Regions from separate parts of the Homo sapiens genome. Here region 2 is linked to region 1. Evidence: fine-mapped expression QTL. A gene starts in region 1. The other region holds a variant in brackets. All regions are shown on one strand. Distances are between the middles of the regions. Region 1 holds the start of TJP3 (tight junction protein 3). Region 2 overlaps TJP3 (tight junction protein 3).

Evidence for each region. PIP is the estimated chance that this variant, and not a neighbour inherited with it, causes the effect.
Region 2: its variant is fine-mapped to the expression of TJP3 in whole blood (TOPMed, PIP above 0.99).

The regions. Positions count from the first base shown.
Region 1 is chr19:3,703,927-3,713,400 of GRCh38, forward strand. TJP3 (tight junction protein 3) reads left to right here and starts at 4,458. Exons shown (of 21, transcript NM_001267560.2): 1 at 4,458-4,635. RefSeq lists enhancers at 3,903-4,566, 4,567-5,228, 6,064-6,609, 8,623-9,124, 9,125-9,474.
Region 2 is chr19:3,735,573-3,745,046 of GRCh38, forward strand. It overlaps TJP3 (tight junction protein 3), which reads left to right. Exons shown (of 21, transcript NM_001267560.2): 9 at 1-67; 10 at 297-363; 11 at 593-749; 12 at 2,983-3,091; 13 at 3,325-3,562; 14 at 4,980-5,191; 15 at 8,367-8,462. Among named protein-coding and RNA genes, the nearest start is that of APBA3, 21 kb to the right of the region's middle. RefSeq lists a silencer at 1,255-1,455. The variant A/G (reference allele first, on the strand shown) is at 4,103.

The DNA of each region.
Region 1 (9,474 bases):
GTATTTTACTACCATTTTTTGTTTTTTCTTTTTTGAGATGAGTCTTGCTCTGTTACCCAGGCTGGAGTGCAGTGGCGTGATCTCGGCTTACTGCAGCCTCTGCCTCCCAGGTTCAAGCGATCCTCCCACCTCAGCCTCCCAAGTAGCTGAGACCACAGGTGTGTGCTACCATACCTGGCTAATTTTTGTAATTTCAGTAGAAATGGGATTTCACTGTGTTGGCCAGGCTGGTGTCAGGTGATCTGCCCACCTCGGCCTCCCAAAGTGTGAGGATTACAGGCGTCAGCCACTGCAGGCGGCCTTGACCATTTTAAGGCTCCAGGAAGAGTTCTTTGGACGCAGGTCATGGACAGAGCTCCTGATTCACCCAGAATCTGTTTTGAAAAAAGATTTAGACCACTGGCTCTCAAGGTGTGGTCCCTGGGCCAGCCACATCAGCCTCACCCTGGGAGCTTGTTAGAAATGCAGGTTCCAAAGCCAGGTGCAGTGGTTCATGCCTGTAATCCCAGTGCTTTGGGATTGAGGCTGAGGCAGGAGAATCACTTTAGCCCAGGAGTTCAAGACCAGCCTGGGCAACATAGCAAGATCCCATCTCTACAAAACAAATTAAAAATTAGTCTGGCGTGGCCAGATGCAGTGGCTCACGCCTGTAATCCCAGCACTTTGGGAGGTTGAGGCAGGTGGATCGCCTGAGGTCAGGAGTTCGAGACCAGCCTGACCATCACGGAGAAACCCTGTCTCTACTAAAAATACAAAAATTAGTCGGGCATGGTGGCGCATGCCTGTAATCCCAGCTACTTAGGAGGCTGAGGCAGGAGAATTGCTTGAACCCGGGAGGCAGAGGTTGCAGTGAGTCAAGATCTCGCCATTGCGCTCCAGCCTGGGCAGCAAGAGCGAAACTCCTCTCAAAAAAACAAAAATAGCCTGGCATGGTGGTGCACACCTGTAGTCCCAGCTACTTGGGAGGCTGAGGTGGGAGGATCGCTTGAGCCCAGAAGTTTGAAGCTGCAGTGAGCTATGATCACACCACTACAGTCCAGCCTGGGCAACAGAGCGAGACCTGGTCTCAAAACAAACAATGAAAAGTAAAAGAAATGCAGGTTCCTAGGCCCCCACCCAGACTTCACACACCAGAAACTGGGCAGAGTAGGGTGGTGGGAGGGCACAATCTGGGTGTTCATGACTCCTCCCTTCCAGGCAAACTGGGTGCCAGATAAAGTTTGGGGGAAGGGGCCAGCCACGGTGGCTCATACCTGTAATCCCAGCACTTTGAGAGGCCAAGGTGGGCGGATCACTTGAGGTCAGGAGTTCGAGACCAGCCTGGCCAACATGGAGAAACCCCATCTCTACTAAAAGTATAAAAATTAGCCAGGCGTGGTGGCATGCGCCTGTAGTCCCAGCTACTTGGGAGGCTGAGGCAGGAGAATCACCTGAACTCAGGAGGCAGAGGTTGCAGTGAGCCGAGATTGCACCACTGCACTCCAGCCTGGGCGACAGAGCGAGACTCTGTCTCAAACCAAAGAAAAGGAAAAGAAATGCAGTTTCCCAGGCTCCAACGCAGACTTCACACACCAGAAACTGGGCGGGGTGGTGGGGGTGGTAAAATCTGGGTGTTCATGACTTCCCCCTTCCAGGCAATTTGGATGCCAGATAAAGTGGAGGAAGTGCTGGAGGTTAGATCATTGATGAGGATAATGAAGAGGAAATATACTTAAAAAAAATTACTAAAACTGGCTGAACAGTCATGACTTACAGACGCAAAAGTCAACATCAAAACAAGCAGTTAAAAGCAGCCTCTTGGCCGGGCGCGGTGGGTCACGCCTGTAATCCCAGCACTTTGGGAGGCAGAGGTGGGTGGATCACCTGAGGTCAGGAGTTTGAGACCAGCCTGGCCAACATGATGAAACCCCACCTCTACTGAAAATACCAAAAAAGTAGCCAGGCGTAGTGGCACATGCCTGTAATTCCAGCTACTCGGGAGGCTGAGGCAGGAGAATCGCTTGAACCCGGGAGGCAGAGGTTGCAGTGAGCCGAGATGGCGCCACTGCACTCCAGCCCGGGAGACAGAGTGAGACTCCGTCTCAAAACACAAAAACAAACAAACAAACAAAAAACTTAAAAAAAAGAAAACTAGGGCAGGGATGGGGTGACAGGAGGGGAGAGGCAAGGGACAGAGAGGAGGGGCTGGGGTCCGGGAGAGCCACCAGCCTTCTGTGCCTTCCCCGCATCCCCCCACGCCCCTGGTTGGCTGTCCCCATTACGCAGGGTGGAAAACCGAGGCTGCCCGGCGGGGGCCGGTTGCGTGGTTTCTGGCGCCGCCTGGTGGCCATAGTGGCTACTACCGTCAGCAGGAGGTACTGCAGGCTGGAGGGACCCTAGTCCATTCATTCCAAAAACATGTATTGAGCACCTACTGTGTACCAGGCACTGTGCTAGGCCATAGGACACGGCAGGGATGAGCACGACAAAGTCCATGACCTCTGTGAGGTGGCATTTTAATATTTATTTATTTATTTTTCAGCCAGCGTCTTGCTCTGTCTCCCAAGCTGGAGTGCAGTGGCGCGATCTCGGCTCACTGCAACCTCTGCCTCTGGGGCTCAAGCGATTCTCCCGTCTCAGCCTCCTGAGTAGCTGGGATTACAGACGCATGCCACCTTGCCCGGCTAATTTTTGTATTTTTAGTAGAGATGGGGTTTCACCATGTTGGCCAGGCTGGTCTCGAACTCCTAACTCAAGCAATTCTCCCACCTCAACCTCCCAAAGTGCTGGGATTACAGGGGTGAGCCATTGAGCCCAGACTTAATTTTTTAAATTTTAATTTTAATGTACTGGTAAAGATGGGGGGGTGTCTCACTATGTTGCCCAGACTGGTCTCGAATTCCTGGCCTCAAGTGATCCTGCCACCTTGGCCTCCAAAGTACTGAGATTATAGGTGTGAGCCATCATGCCCAACCCTTCCTGGTTAATTTTATTTTATTGAGATAGGATCTTGCTCTGTCACCCAGGTTGGAGTGCAGTGGCACAGTCATAGCTCTCTGCAGCCTCAACCTCCCAGGGTCAATTGATCCTCCCACCTCAGCCTCCTGAGTTTCTGGGACTACAGGTGTGTACCACCACATCTGGCTAATTTTTAAAAAAGTTTTCTGGGCTGGGCGTGGTGGCTCACGCCTGTAATCTCAGCACTTTGAGAGGCCAAGGCAGGCGGATCACCTGAGGCCAGGAGTTCAAGACCAGCTTGGCCAATATGGTGAAACTCCGTCTCTACAAAAATACAAAAATTAGCTGGGCATGATGGCTGGTGCCTGTAATGCAATCCCAGCTACTCGGGAGGCTGAGGCAGGAGAATCACTTGAAACCGGGAGGCAAAGGTTGCAGTGGGCCGAGATCAAGCCATTGCACTCCAGCCTGGGCAACATAGCAAGACTCTGTCTCAAAAAAATAAAAAAAAAATAAAATAAAAACAAAAAACAAAACAAAACCAACAACAGCCAGCAGCAACAACAAAAAAACTTTTCTAGGCCAGGCTCGGTGGCTCACGCCTGTAATCCCAACACTTTGGGAGGCCGAGGCGGGCAGATCACTTGAGGTCAGGAGTTTGAGACCAGCCTGGCCAACATAGGAAAACCCCGTCTCTACTGAAAAAAAAAAAAAAAATTAGCTGGGCGTGGTGGTGCACGCCTGTAATCCCAGCTACTTGGGAGGCTGAGGCAGAAGAATCACTTGAACCCAGGAGGCGGAGGTTGCAGTGAGCCGAGATCGCGCCACTGCACTCCAGCCTGGGTGACAGAGGGAGACTCCATCTCAAAACAAACAACAAACAAAAGATATATAAAAATTTTTCTAGAGATGGGTTTCACCGTGTTACCCAGGCTGGTCTCAAATTCCCAGGCTCAAGTGATCCTCCCACCTCGGCCTCCCAAAGTGCTGGAATTACAGGTGTGAGCCACCACACCTGACCCTTTCTTGTTTTTTAGATGAGGACAGCAAGAAGCCCCTGTAATTTGCCCAAAGCCACACAGCGGGGAAGTGGCAGAAGCTTCTGTACGTAGGAACCCAGTCACTTCGTAGCAGAGAGGCAGACTGCGCACAGATCTGCGTGGGGAAGGGAGTGCGCCAAGCCACAGCCTGATGGGCCGGCGTGCCTGGCAGGAGGCTCAGCAAGCACAGAGACTGGGCAGCTCCAGATGCAAGAAGCAGGAGGGAGGGGGACTCCGGGAGTGCGGTCCATTCATGTCTGAATGTAGCCAACGAGGGTTTCCTAAGCACCTACCATGTGCGGACGCTTGATACCAGGGCCTCGGCGGTGAGGGCACAGGCAGGAGCAAGCTCACCTCTGGGCAAGCAGGGGTTAAGGCCAGTTGCTCCCACGTGAGGGCACCTTGCGACAGAGCCACACACCCAGTCCTCCTGCTGGCCCGCCCCTCACCCTGGTCCGTCTCCCTGTGTCTGTGGTCGTCAGTTCCACTGGCAGGGGACCTGCCTCCCTGTTGCCACCACAAGAGAGGAAAAGTTGGTCAAACAGGTGGGGAGGCCAGAGCTACAAGCCTCGGGTTCCCTCCCCACCACCCGTGCCAGGCAGGCACCCGGGCCCTGGCACCTGCTGCCTGCCCAGAGGCCACCCAGCCTCCTAGACAGGTAAGTCCCCCGCCCCACTGTGCTTTTCCACCCAGTGTGCATTGTCTGAGCTGGCCTTCCCCAGCTGAGGGTCCTTAGACTCCCCCCCAACCTCCCCCACCACGAGCTGTCTCCCCGGCTCCTCGGAAAGCAGGAAACTGACACTCCTGCGTGGGCATCTGACATAGTTTCGTAGGGATTATCTGACCGGCAGTTACTGCACCTGGCGGCCTGCCCAGGACGCTGAGCTGGAAACTTAAAAGGGTCATTGTTACCTAGGTGGCGCAGGGACCGGGGAGGCGGCAAAGGGGCACAGGTTGGTCTCTGATCCCCCTAACTGAGGAGGGGAGGGGATATCAGTCCAGACGGAGCCTGGGTTTACCTCCTGCAGCCCGAGGCTAGGAGGTGACAGGTGGGAAAGGCTGCGACCTCACTCATCTCTGAGCCTCCTGGAACTTCTTAAAAGGCTCCCAAGTTTTGAAACAACTGCGTCTCCCGCCCCCCAACCCCTCACCCTGTTCTCACCGCTGGAACCTCCAGGAGCTTTGCAGGGAGGGATTGGGGTGGCCTTTCTTTTGCTAATTTTTTTTTTGAGACGGAGTTTTGCTCTTGTTGCCCAGGCTGGAGTGCAGTGGTGCGATCTTGGCTCACTGCAACCTCTGCCTCCACCTCTGCCTCCCGAGTAGCTGGGATTACAAGCGCCCACCACTATGCCCAGCTAATTTTTGTATTTTTAGTAGAGATGGGGTTTCACCATGTTGGCCAGGCTGGTCTCGAACTCCTGACCTCAGGTGATCCAACCCCCTCGGCCTCCCAAAGTGCTGGGATTACAGGCGCAAGCCACTGCGCCCAGACTTCTTTTTCTAATCTTTACTCCTCCGAGCAAAATCTCTGTGGGATGGGGCAGAGGGGAAGGAGGAAGGAGCGCTCAGAGCCAGAGAGGGGAGGGGTCGGCAGCAAAAGTGTTTTTCTGGGTCATTTGCTCCCAAATGGGAAGACCAAGGGAGCTTCCTCGTGAGCCAAGTGTCCGATTGCATCTCAAGTCTCTCTCCAGAACCAAGAGGGTCCCCCGGGGCCGAGGAGGCATGGATGATCGCATAGTGGGGGACAGAGCGGCCCGGCATTTGGGGTCACCTTGTGGCTGTGTGGCTGCAGAGCTCCCAGGGAGCAGGCTTGCTTGAGATTCGGGAGTCCGTGGGGGTGGGCGACATGGATCCCACCTTGCCTGGGTTTTGAGAGCAAACCCGTGGACTCAGTTAGATCTGGCTTCCACACCTCCCTTCTCTCCGGGCCTCTGTTTCCTGCTCTGTAAAATGGGGATATTGAGGGCCGGGCGCGGTGGCTCACGCCTGTAATCCCAGCACTTTGGGAGGTCGAGGCGAGTGGATCACAAGGTCAGGAGTTCGAGACCAGCCTGGCCAACATGGTGGAACCCTGTCTCTACTAAAAATACAAAAAATGAGCCGAATATGGTGGCAAGCACTTGTAATCCCAGCTACTCCGGAGGCTGAGGCAGGAGAATTGCTTGAACCCAGGAGGTGGAGGTTGCAGTGAGCCGAGATTGTGCCACTGCACTCCAGCCTGGACAACAGAGTGAGACTCTGTCTCAAAAAAAAAAAAAAAAAAAGGGGTGGGGGGATATGGAGTCACCAAGGCACAGGGCTGTTGAGTGCCGGATGTAATAAAGCGGGTAACAGATTCTCGGTCATTCTGGGGTCAAGACGAGCTATCCCGGTCCGAATCGGAGTCTGGTCTCATCAGCTTCCTGGTTTGTAGAGGATGAACCCTGGCTCAGAGAAGGACAGCCGCTTACCCCGGGCCGCACAGCCAAGTAGAAATGTCAGGCGGCCAAGAGTCAAGACGCAGAGGACAGGGAGCTGGTGGCGGGGGTGGTGCTCTGGAGGCTGGCCCTGCCCCCAGCTGATGCCTCAGGCTCAGCATCTCGAGAAAGTCCTGCCCCCTGGCTTGGTGCTTCCTCGTGGCCCTGAGTCCCGGGGAAAGTCCAGGGCAGGGAGTATGGGTACTTGTTCTTCCTCTTTAGGGCTGGCCAGGGGCCAGGGGAGCTGTGTTTGCTCAGGGTGGAACCTGACACCCTTTGGAATGGATTGAGGTTAGCGGAAGCCTAGGCTGGGGGGAGGGGTCGCCCAGGGAGCGAACGGGCATTTATTGTGCACTTACTGTATGCGCGAGTGTGGGGTCACCAGGCCTTGGAGATTCAGCAGTGAGCAAGGCAGGCCAAGCTTCCTGCTCTCGTGGGGCGCATATTTTGGTGGGGAAAGACAGACATGAAACAAGAGCGCAGTAATGGAGCCAATGGCTGCACAGAGGGTAACATGCGTGAGAGGCGCTTTGTAACTTTATTTTACTTTTTATATTTTTTTGAAACGGAGTCTCGCTCTGTCGCCCAGGCTGGAGTGCGGTGGCGCGATCTCGGCTCACTGCAAGCTCCGCCTCCCGGGTTCACGCCATACTCCTGCCTCAGCCTCCCGAGTAGCTGGGACTACAGGCGCCCGCCACCACACCCGGCTAATTTTTTGTATTTTTAGTACAGACGGGGTTTCACCGTGGTAGCCAAGATGGTCTCTCCTGACCTTGTGATCCGCCCACCTCAGCCTCCCAAAGTGCTGGGATTACAGGCGTGAGCCACCATGCCCGGCCTTATTTTATTTTTTTTTGAGATGGAGTCTCGCTCTGTTGCCCAGGCTGGAGTGCAGTGGAACGATCTCCGCTCGCTGCAACCTCCACCTCCTGGGTTCAAAGCGATTCTCCTGTCTCAGCCTCCCAAGTAGCTGGGATTACAGGCGCCCACCACCACGCCCAGCTAATTTTTGTATTTTTAGTAGAGACAGGGTTTCACCGTATTGGTCAGGCTGGTCTCGAACTCCTGATCTCAGGTGATTCGCTCGCCTCGGCCTCCCAAAGTGCTGGGATTACAGGCGTGAGCCACCGCGTCCGGCCAAAATGAAGGGAGAGCTTTAAATGCTGGCCTGAAGACATTTGGCTTTATGATATTAAAGGATATTTTTTCCCAAAATAGTAAAATCATTACTCTCATACAAATACAAAATGAGGCCGGATGCGGTGGCTCACGCCTGTAATCCCAGCACTTTGGGAGGCCGAGACGGGTGGATCACGAGGTCAGGAGTTCAAGACCAGCCTGGCTAACATGGTGAAACCCTGTCTCTACTAAAAGTACAAAAAAAAAAAAAAAGGTGCTTTATGTGTCTGCTTAATTCATTAATTAATATGGGAACCGGTAAGACTTTATAGCCTATACAGAGGGGAATTAATTTGTTTCCTTTCTTTCTTTTTTTTAAAAATTGAAAATAGAAATGGGGTTTTGCTGTGTTGGCCGGCCTGGTCTCGAGCTTCTGGGCTCAAGTGATCTGCCAGCCTCAGCCACTCAAAGTGCTGGGATTTCAAGCGAGAGCCACCGACCCGGCCTCAGCATTCTTGATTGCCTGTGTGTGTGTGTTCTTTCAGTTCTCCTCTGGACCAGACACGGTGGCTCACGCCTGTAATCCCAGCATTTTGGGAGGCCAAGGCAGGTGGGTCACTTGAGCCCAGGAGTTTGAGACCAGCCTGGCAAACGTGGTGAAACTCTGTCTCTACTAAAAATACAAAAATTAGCCAGGTGTGTTGGCGTGTGCCTATAATTCCAGCTACTTGGGAGGCTGAGGCAGGAGAATTGCTTGAACCTGGGAGGCAGAGGTTGCAGTGAGCCGGGATCGCACCACTGCACTCCAGCCCCAGAGACAGAGCAAGACTCCATCTCAAAAATGTCATTCCGTGCCCAGAATGACAGCACCTTAGCGTAGATGGTTTCCATGGGGCAGGGGGCCCCCTCTAGCCCTGGGACACTGTAATTCACCTTTGGCTTTCCCACTGGGGGCCCGAGTGGAGTTAGAAGCATGGAGAGGCAGCCCAGGGGATCCTTAGTGGCAGATGCTTAAACCTTTGAGCCTTCCCTGAAATACTGCTCAGGGTCAAAACCGGGATCCCCGTTTTACAGATGAGGAAGCTGAGGCAGGGGCTGGAATTCACATGGGCTCTGCTTTTCTCTCTCTGCTGTGGAACTTCCTTCTAGAGCTCAGCCGTCCTCCCTTTTGGGGGAAATGGCATCTTTGGCATGGCTTGGTGGCTCCCGCCTGGAATCCCAACATTTTGGGAGGCCGAGGTGGGAGGATCGCATGAGCCCAGCAGTTCAAGACAGGTCCGGGCAACATAGCGAGATACCGTCTCTACAAAATATACAAAAATCTGCTGGGCAGGGTGGCGTGCACCTGTGGCCCCAGCTACACAGGAGGCTGGGGTGGGAGGATCGCTTGAGCCCAGGAAAGTGGAGGCTGCAGTGAGCTATGATTGCACCACTGCACTCCAGCCTAGGTGACAGAGCAAGACTCTGTCTCAAAAAAAAAAAAAAGAAAAGAAAAGAAAGTCCCCTGTTGAACACCCTGAGCTGCATTCCATACTCCAAGCTTCTAGCAGGTTCCACACTCCTCCTACTTCAAAGTGCCCCCCATGAGTCCTACTTCAAAGTGCCCCCCATGAGGTCCTCCAGCCTCCCCAGGACGCCAAACCCTGAGACGTTCTTCAGCCCTCCAGTGCCTTAGGGCTGAGCCGGCCACACCTAGAATCTGCCCTTCCTCAAAGGTCGTTTGGATCTTGGCAACCCACAGACCGGGGCGTCTCCTCCCACCTGGCTGCCCTCCATCTCTGCTCTCTGTCTCTGCTCCTGCCCCGTCCTCTCCACACGGCTTCCTTAAAACCTCCCAGGGTCCCCCAAAACCCATGACGCCAGTCTAGTCATGAGGGAAACAGCTGGTCCCCAATGTCCCCACATTGAGAGTTATTCTGCAA
Region 2 (9,474 bases), 32 kb after region 1:
CCCCGGCTTCGGCGGGAAAGTTCAGTAGATTCCAGAACCATCTCGGAACCAGATGAGCAACGGTCAGGTGGGTGGTGACTCTGAGCACCCCTGTCCCTGACATTTCTGATCCCTGACAGCAAGGCTGTGCCAGGCAGAGCTGGGGGAGGTTGGCCTGAGCCTAAGTGGTGAGACATGGTTTCCTGAGAAGGACTCGAGGTGGGTGACAGTCCTTCCAGGATGAGGACATAAAGCAAAGGTTTGGAGGCTGGACTGAGCCAGTGTGCTTGGGAAAGAGACTGGCTTTTCCCTTTCAGAGTTGCCCAGGGAAAGCAGCTATGACATCTACAGAGTGCCCAGCAGTCAGAGCATGGAGGATCGTGGGTATGTACCCCAGAAGAAAGCAAACCCGCTCAAAACTCCTACATCCCAGGCTGCCTCCCTCATCAGCGCAATCCTGCCTGCTTGTATCCATTGTGTTGAGTGGGACCATTAAGTGGGGGTTTTGGGGAAACTGAGGCCTGGAGGGGGTGGGGGCTTTCCCAAGGACAATGCTGAGCCCTCCCTTTGTCCGCCCACTCTGCTCTGACCCCATCTCTGCCTCCCCTTGCAGGTACAGCCCCGACACGCGTGTGGTCCGCTTCCTCAAGGGCAAGAGCATCGGGCTGCGGCTGGCAGGGGGCAATGACGTGGGCATCTTCGTGTCCGGGGTGCAGGCGGGCAGCCCGGCCGACGGGCAGGGCATCCAGGAGGGAGATCAGATTCTGCAGGTGCTCCGGGGGCGGCTGGCCAGCCCCACTGATCATGGGCGTGCAGTGTGCTAGGTCCTGCCCTTGTCTGTTCCAGTCCTCCCCTTGGGTCCACCTGGGGACTGTCGAGACCCCAGATGGGTATTTGAACATTTCAGTGTCTCCTTGGCTGTGTCATGATTTTGCTGATGTCACGACCTTATCTTCCAGGTCATGACCTCATCGTCCAGTTACAACCTCCTTTTCTGTGCCTTGACCTTATCTGGGTTCATTTTTTGTTGTTGTTGTTTTTGAGATGGAGTTTTGGTCTTGTTGCCCAGGCTGGAGTGCAATGGTGTGATCTTGGCTCACCGCAACCTCTGCCTCCCAGGTTCAAGCAATTCTTCTGCCTCACCTCCTGAGTAGCTGGGATTACAGTTGTCCACCACCACGCCCGGCTAATTTTTATATTTTTAGTAGAGATGAGGGTTTCGCCATGTTGGCCAGGCTGGTCTCAAACTCCTGACCTCAGGTGATCCACCTGCCTCGGCTTCCCAAGTAGCTGAGATTACAGGCATGAGCCACTGCGCCTGGCTAACTTTTTTTTTTTTTTTTTTTGAGATAGAGTCTTGCTCTGTCACCCAGGCTGGAGTGCGGGGGTGTGATCTTGGCTCACTGCAACCTCCGCCTCCCGGGTTCAAGGGATCATCCTGACTCAGCCTCCCAAGTAGCTGGGATCACAGGTGGCCGCCACCATGCCCAGCTAATTTTTGTGTTTTTAGTAGAGACAGGGTTTCACCATGTTGGCCAGGCTGGTCTTGAACTCCTGGCCTCAAGTGATGCACCCGCCTCAGCCTCCCAAAGTGCTGAGATTATAAGCTTGAGACACTGTGCTCAAGATTGGGAACAACAATCTTGTTGTTCATGTCATATGACATTGTTCATGTGACATTCTTGTTATCAATGTCACAATCTCCTTGTTATCAATGTCAGGACTTTGGGTCACAGCCTCATTGCCTATGTCATGACCTTGTCTGGGTCGCAATCCTCTTGTTCCTGACATTGGCTGTGTTGACCGTGTCATGACCGTCTTGTATGTCCTAATCGTGTGGTCAGGTCACAGATCATTCTCTCATGATCTCCATGTCCACTTATAGTCATTTTCTGTGCCACCATCCCCTGTGTCTGTGTTGTGACCTTGCCTGTGTCCTGCCTTCATGACAGTGTCATAACTACCTCCAGGATCCACAGCCCCTCATCATCCCCCCATCTCTGTCCTTGCCTCATCTCATCCCCAGGCTGTCTCCCCTGTCCCTTGCGCGAGTTCACTCACCAAGTCTCACCCCCACTTTGCTCTCATGACCTTGCTTGTGTCTTGACCTTGCAGTGTGAGTTGTGATTCATGATGGAGTCACAGCTCCCCACTTTCCATGTCATAAGCCCACTGGCTGGGTGAAAACTTGATGCCAAATTGCCTGAGGGTCATGGTATTTTTTACTGTATTTCTACTCATTTTGCTTGTGGGATTCTAACCTTGACATCCACGTCATGACCCCGAGAGTAGGTGTCTGTGCCCACAAGCTGTGCAAGTATATTGCTGTCCCTGTTATGACCCTGAGAGCAGGTGGCTGTGTCTGTATATTGCTGTCCATGTCGTGACCCTGAGAGCAGGTGGCTGTATATTGCTGTCCATGTCATGACCCGGAGAGCAGGTGGCTGTATATTGCTGTCCATGTCATGACCCTGAGAGCAGGTGGCTGTGTCTGTATATTGCTGTCCATGTCATGACCCGGAGAGCAGATGGCTGTGTCCATATATTGTTGTCCCTGTCATGACCCTGGTGGTAGGCATCTGTGACCCACTGTGTGTCCATATATCGTTGTCCCTGTCACGACCCTGTGACTACTGTGACTACGTCTGAGTTCTTTTGAGCATTTCACACAGTTTCCATCGAGCTCCATGCCATGACCTCTGTTCCCATGTTTTGATATTGACAACCCACCATGATTTGGTTATCTGAGGACAAGTGCAGTGCCTGTGCCCGTTTCTGTGTCAAAACTCTTGTATCCTTACAATGCCACCAGCTGTCTGTGTCACACATCACACAGCCATAGGGTGATACCCCAGTCGGAAAGCCCTCGGGGAACTGCCGGGTCCCTTGGCAGCAGCTCTGGAAGCAGCTGGGGCTGAGTTTTGCCCAGAGGAAGGTCCAGGATCTCATGCACGCCCAAGAGGTACCAGAGCTTTTTCTATAGCTGCACTTGCTTTCTGGCAGGTGAATGACGTGCCATTCCAGAACCTGACACGGGAGGAGGCAGTGCAGTTCCTGCTGGGGCTGCCACCAGGCGAGGAGATGGAGCTGGTGACGCAGAGGAAGCAGGACAGTGAGTGCGCGTGGATATGGGTGTGCCTGTGTGTTGCGGGGGGAGGACCTGGCTGTGTGGCCTGGTGGTGAGTGCAGGGATGTGGTTGAATCTGCATCTCTGCACCCTCCATCCCTCTCCCTGGCCCCTACAGGGAGAGTGCCCCAAATCTCCAGCCAGGCCCACTCTCGGGTGGGGAGGGCTCAGATCAGGCAGCAGCCCAGGCAGCTCATGTGGCCTCCCGCTCTCCCCAGTTTTCTGGAAAATGGTGCAGTCCCGCGTGGGTGACTCCTTCTACATCCGCACTCACTTTGAGCTGGAGCCCAGTCCACCGTCTGGCCTGGGCTTCACCCGTGGCGACGTCTTCCACGTGCTGGACACGCTGCACCCCGGCCCCGGGCAGAGCCACGCACGAGGAGGCCACTGGCTGGCGGTGCGCATGGGTCGTGACCTGCGGGAGCAAGAGCGGGGCATCATTCCCAACCAGAGCAGGTGGGGACTGTGTGCTCCTGCAGTGGGGCACTTCTGCTTCAGCCTCAGTCTCCCCGTTAGAAATGGGCTCGATTGGGCTGGACGCGGTGGCTCAGGCCTGTAATCCTGGCACTTTGGGAGGCTGAAGTGGGCAGATCATGAGGTCAAGAGATCGAGACCATCCTGGGCAACATGGTGAAACCTCGTCTCTACTAAAAATACAAAAATTAGCTGGGCGTGGTGGCACATGCCTATAATCCCAGCTTCTTGGGAGGCTGAGGCAGGAGAATCGCTTGAACCTGGGAGGCAGAGGTTACAGTGAGCCGAGATCACGCCACTGCACTCCAGCCTGGCAACAGAGTGAGACTCTTGTCTCAATAAATAAATAAATAGGCATGATATCACTGCTTAGCAGTGTTGGTGGTTCAATCTGAGGAGGTCCACAAAAGGCTCTGGGCGGGCCCCATTTGGTGCTGGTATGAGCTTCCTGTTGTTGCTGTAACAGATGCCCAGAAACTTAGTGGCTTTAAACAACACACACATCCTCTTACAGTTCTGGAG[A/G]GCAAAAGTACTAAAGTCAAGGTATGGGCAGGCCTGGGCCCTCCCAGAGGCTCCAGGAGAAAACCAATTTTCCACCTTTCCCAGAGTCTAGAGGGGCCGCATCCCTCAGCTCGGGGCCCCTTCCTCCCCCTTCATAGCCACAGCACAGCCTCTTCTAGTCTCTCTCTGACTCTCACCCTCCCGCCTCTTCTTGTGAGGACCCTGTGAGGACATCGGGTCCCCTGGGTCACCCAGGATCATCATCCACCTCAATAGCATCAGTTTAATCCCATCTGCAGGCCAGGCACGGTGGCTCACGCCTGTAATCCCAGCACTTTGGGAGGCTGAGGCGGGCAGATCACGAGGTCAAGAGATTGAGACTATCCTGGCCAACATGGTGAAACCCCATCCCTACTAAAAATACAAAAATTAGCTGGGCGTGGTGGTGCATACCTGTAATCCCAGCTACTTGGGAGGCTGAGGCATGAGAATCGCTTGAACCTGGGAGGCGGAGGTTGCAGTGAGCAGAGATTGCACCGCTGCACTCCAACCTGGCGACGGAGCGAGACTCTATCTCAAAAAAGTAAATAAATAAATAATAAAGATTAGCTGGGCGTGGTGGCGGGCACCTGTAATCCCAGCTATTTGGGAAAGTGAGGCAGGAGAATCGCCTGAACCCAGGAGGCAGAGGTTGTAACGAGTCCAGCCTGAGTGACAGAGCAAGACTTTGTCTCAAAAAACCCAAAATAATAATAATAGTAATAATAATCCCATCTGCAGAGTCCCTTTTGCCATACAAAGTGGCCTGTCCACAGGCTCCGAGGGGTAGGACGAGGACGTCTTTGGGGCCACCATGCTGCTGACCCCAGTGCTCAGTACTGTCCCCTCTTCTCCCCAGGGCGGAGCAGCTGGCCAGCCTGGAAGCTGCCCAGAGGGCCGTGGGAGTCGGGCCCGGCTCCTCCGCGGGCTCCAATGCTCGGGCCGAGTTCTGGCGGCTGCGGGGTCTTCGTCGAGGAGCCAAGAAGACCACTCAGCGGAGCCGTGAGGACCTCTCAGCTCTGACCCGACAGGGCCGCTACCCGCCCTACGAACGAGTGGTGTTGCGAGAAGGTGGGGCCCGGAGCTGGAGGGGCCCTGGGGAGGCCTCACACACAGCTCCTGGTGCACCTGTTCACTAACATTCAGCCTCTAAAAGGCACAGTCTTGGCCCGGCGTGGTGGCTCACGCCTATAATCCCAACACTTTGGGAGGCCGAGGTAGGAGGATCGCTGAGGCCAGGAGTTCCAGATCAACCTGGGCGGTAAAGCAAGACTACATCTCTACCTCAAATTTATTTATTTATTTATTTTTGTTTTTATTTTTATTTTTAGACAGAGTCTTGCTCTGTCTTAGGCTGGAGTGCAATAGCGTGATCTGAGCTCACTGCAACCCCTGCCTCCCTGATTCAAGCGATTCTCTTGCCTCAGCCTCCCAAGTAACCGGGATTACAGGCGCCCATCACCCCGCCCCCAGCTAATTTTTGTATTTTTAGTAAAGACGGGGTTTCACCATGTTGGCCAGGCTGGTCTTGAACTCGTGACCTCACGATCCACCCGCTTCAGCCTCCCAAAATGCTGAGATTACAGGCGTGAGCCACCACGCCCGGCCTCTACATCAAATTTAAAAAGATAGCTGGGCATGGTGGTGCATACCTATAGTCCCCGCTGCTTGGGAAGCTGAGGCAGGAAGATTGCTTGAGCTTGGGAGGTCGAGGTTGCAGTGAGCTATGATCGCACCAGCCTGGCCCACATGGTGAAATCCCATCTCTACTAAAAGTACAAAAAATTAGCTGGGCATGGTGGCAGGCGCCTGTAATCCCAGCTACTTGGGAGGCTGAGGCAGGAGAATCACTTGAACCCGGGAGGCAGAGGTTGCAGTGAGCTATGATCGCACCACTGCACTCCACCCTGGGCCACAGATTGACACTGTCTTCAAAAGAAAAAAAAAAAAAAGCATGTTTCTAACCACTCTCCTTCTATCAAAAATACTTTTGGGCCTGGGTGCGGTGGCTCACGCCCGTAATCTCAATGGTTTGGGAGGCTGAGGCAGGTGGATCACCTGAGGTCAGGAGCTCTAGACCAGCCTGGCCCACATGGTGAAATCCCATCTCTACTAAAAGTACAAAAAATTAGCTGGGCATGGTGGCAGGTGCCTATAATCCCAGCTACTTGGGAGGCTGAGGCAGGAGAATCACTTGAACCCGGGAGGCAGAGGTTGCAGTGAGCGGAGATCACACCACTGCACTCCAGCCTGGGCAACAAGAGCAAAACTCCGTCTCAAAAAAAACAAAAAAACAAAAAAATTTTGGGTTATTTTAGGGGACAGAAGGACAGGAAGGGGGTTCATTCCTTAAAAATCTATTTGTGTCTCCAACAGAAATATGGTGCAAGGCATGTAGATAGCCTTACAAAAGGAAAAAGAAATAGCAATAATAATAATTTTAATAATTTATCTTCTTTGACCGGGCGTGGTGGCTCACGCTTGTAATCCCAGCACTTTGGGAGGCCAAGATGGGTGGGTCACTTGAGCCCAGGAGTCTGGGACCAGCCTGGACAGCAAAGTGAGACTCTGTCTCTACAAAATAAAAAATAAATTAGCCAGGTGTGGTGGTACGCCAGTAGTCCCAGCTACTTGGCAGGCTGAGGTGGGAGGATCCCTTGAGCCCAGGAGGTCGAGGCTGCGGAGAGCTATGATCATGCTGCTGCACTCTAGCCTGGGCAACAAAGCCAGACTCTGGGGGGAAAAATGCCTCATCCTGATTTCAGGAAGGGAAGAGATTAAGCTCTTATCAGAGGACAGGGGGTTAAAAACCCAGGTGCAGCGATTTTCCAAATAAAACCACAAAAGGGGTGGGAAGAGCAAATTGCCCGGGACAGGGGTGGGTGGATGGACCTTGAGAAAAGCCTTTGACACTGTCATCGCGCTGCTCCAACATCCAGATGAAAACGTCCTAGAAATACAAGGCCACGGCCAGGCGTGGTGGCTCACGCCTGTAATCCCAGCACTTTGGGAGGCCGAGGTGTAATCCCAGCACTTTGGGAGGTGGGTGGATCACCTGAGTTCGGGAGTTCGAGACCAGCCTGGCCAACGTGGTGAAACCCCGTCTCTACTGAAAATACAAAAATTAGCCGGGCGTGGTGGTGGGCGCCTCTAATCCCAGCTACTCAGGAAGCTGAGGCAGGAGAATCACTTGGACCTGGGAGATGGAGGTTGCAGTGAGCCAAGATTAAGCCACTGCACCGCCAGCCTCGGTGACACAGCAAGACTCTGTCTCAAAAAAATAAGTAAATAGGCCACGTGCGGTGGCTCACGCCTGTAATCCCAGCACTTTGGGAGGCCGAGGCGGGCGGATCACGAGGTCAGGAGTTCGAGATCAGCTTGACCAACATGGTGAAACCCAGTTTCTACTAAAAATACAAAAATTAGCCAGGCATGGTGGCGCACGCCTGTAATCCCAGCTACTCAGGAGGCTAAGGCAGGAGAACTGCATGAACCTGGAAGGTGAAGGTTGCAGTGAGCCAAGATTGCGCCACTGCACTCCAGCCTGGGCCACAGAGCTAGACTCCATCTCAAAAAAAAAAGTAAATAAAATAAAAGAAAGAAAGGGAGAAAGAGAAGGATTAAGTTGCAAAGACCCTGGGCTACCACTTTTCTCCCCTCAAGACGCTTCTGTGACTGTTTCTTCAGTGGTAAAATGGTGTATCTGGTAGGCCAGGTGTCAACATACTTTTCCTGCAAAGGATCACATAGTAACTATTTTAGGCTTTGTGGGCTAGTCTCTGGCAGAACTACTCAGCTCTGCTCAAAGGTAGCCATAGACAGGACATAAAGAAATGGTTGTGACTGTGTTTTGATAAAACTTTATTGACGAACACATGCAGTGGGCCAGATGTGGCCCTCAGGTTGTAGTCTGCTGACCTATGAGTTAGCTAGGTTCAACTGCTAAAAAGAGACCCTACAGCCAGGAAGAAAGGGAATGAAGGCAGGAGAGGGGCTTATTCCTGCCCTTGAAGGCGGAACCCAGAAATGTACACATCAATTCTGCTAGTGTTCCATTGGCCATTATTTGGTCATAAGGCTAACCTAGCTGCAAAGGACACTGGGAGATGTAGTATTTGGCTGGGTAGCTATGGTCCTGGTTAAATAGGCTGTTTACTATAAGGAAGTGGAGGGGTTTGTACAACACACTAGCAGTCTTTGATCGCAAATGGGACCCTGATTCTTTCACTGTGTCTCTACCCCTCAGCCAGTTTCAAGCGCCCGGTAGTGATCCTGGGACCCGTGGCCGACATTGCTATGCAGAAGTTGACTGCTGAGATGCCTGACCAGTTTGAAATCGCAGGTGAGAAGCCAGATCCTCTGGAAACCTCGTTGGTGAAATAGTTTCACAACTGTTTTTTTGTGGGGGGTCGGGGGAGAGTTAGAATAATGATGGCAAACATGAAGCAGATGGGCCACCAGTGCCCCCCCCAATACCCAAGCCAGACATCCTCAATCCATCTTGGCACCGTTTGTCTGGATAGAACCTCCAAATCCTTCTTAACACAGTTCACCAGGTAGCCATTGCCAATTGAGGCAAAGTGCCACCTGTTATTTGTTTAAGAGAAATTTATTGATCTTCTGAGACAGCAGTGAACACGACAGGCAAGGTCCCTTGGAGAAGACTCCAAATTAACAACTGTAGAAACAATGGCCGGGTGCGGTGGCTCATGCCTGTAATCCCAGCACTTTGGGAGTCCGAGGCGGGTGGATCACGAGGTCAAGAGATTGAGACCATCCTGGCTAACATGGTGAAACCCCGTCTCTACTAAAAATACAAAAATTAGCTAGGTGTGGTGGCGCGTACCTGTAGTCCCAGCTACTCGGGAGGCTGAGGCAGGAGAATTGCTTGAACCCGTGAGGCAGAGGTTGCAGTGAGCCGAGGTCATGCCACTGCACTCCAGCCTGACGACGGAATGAGACTCTGTCAAAAAAAAAAAAAACAAAAACAATTAAGATAGACTAGGAGGCCGGGCGCAGTGGTCAGGAGTTCGAGACCAGCCTGGCCAACATGGTGAAACCACATCTCTACTAAAAACACAAAAAATTAGCTGGACATGGTGGCGCATGCCTGTAATCCCAGCTACTCAGGAAGCTGAGGCAGGAGAATTGCTTGATCCCAGGAGGCGGAGGGTGCAGTGAGCAGAGATCACGCCACTGCGCTCCAGCCTGGGTGACAGAGGGAGACCCTGTCTCGAAATAAAAAACAAAAAATAGTTAAGATTGCAAATTTTGGCTGGGTGTGGTGGCTCACATGTAAAATCTCAGCACTTTGAGAGGCCAAGGTGTGAGGATGACTTGAGCCTAGGAGTTTG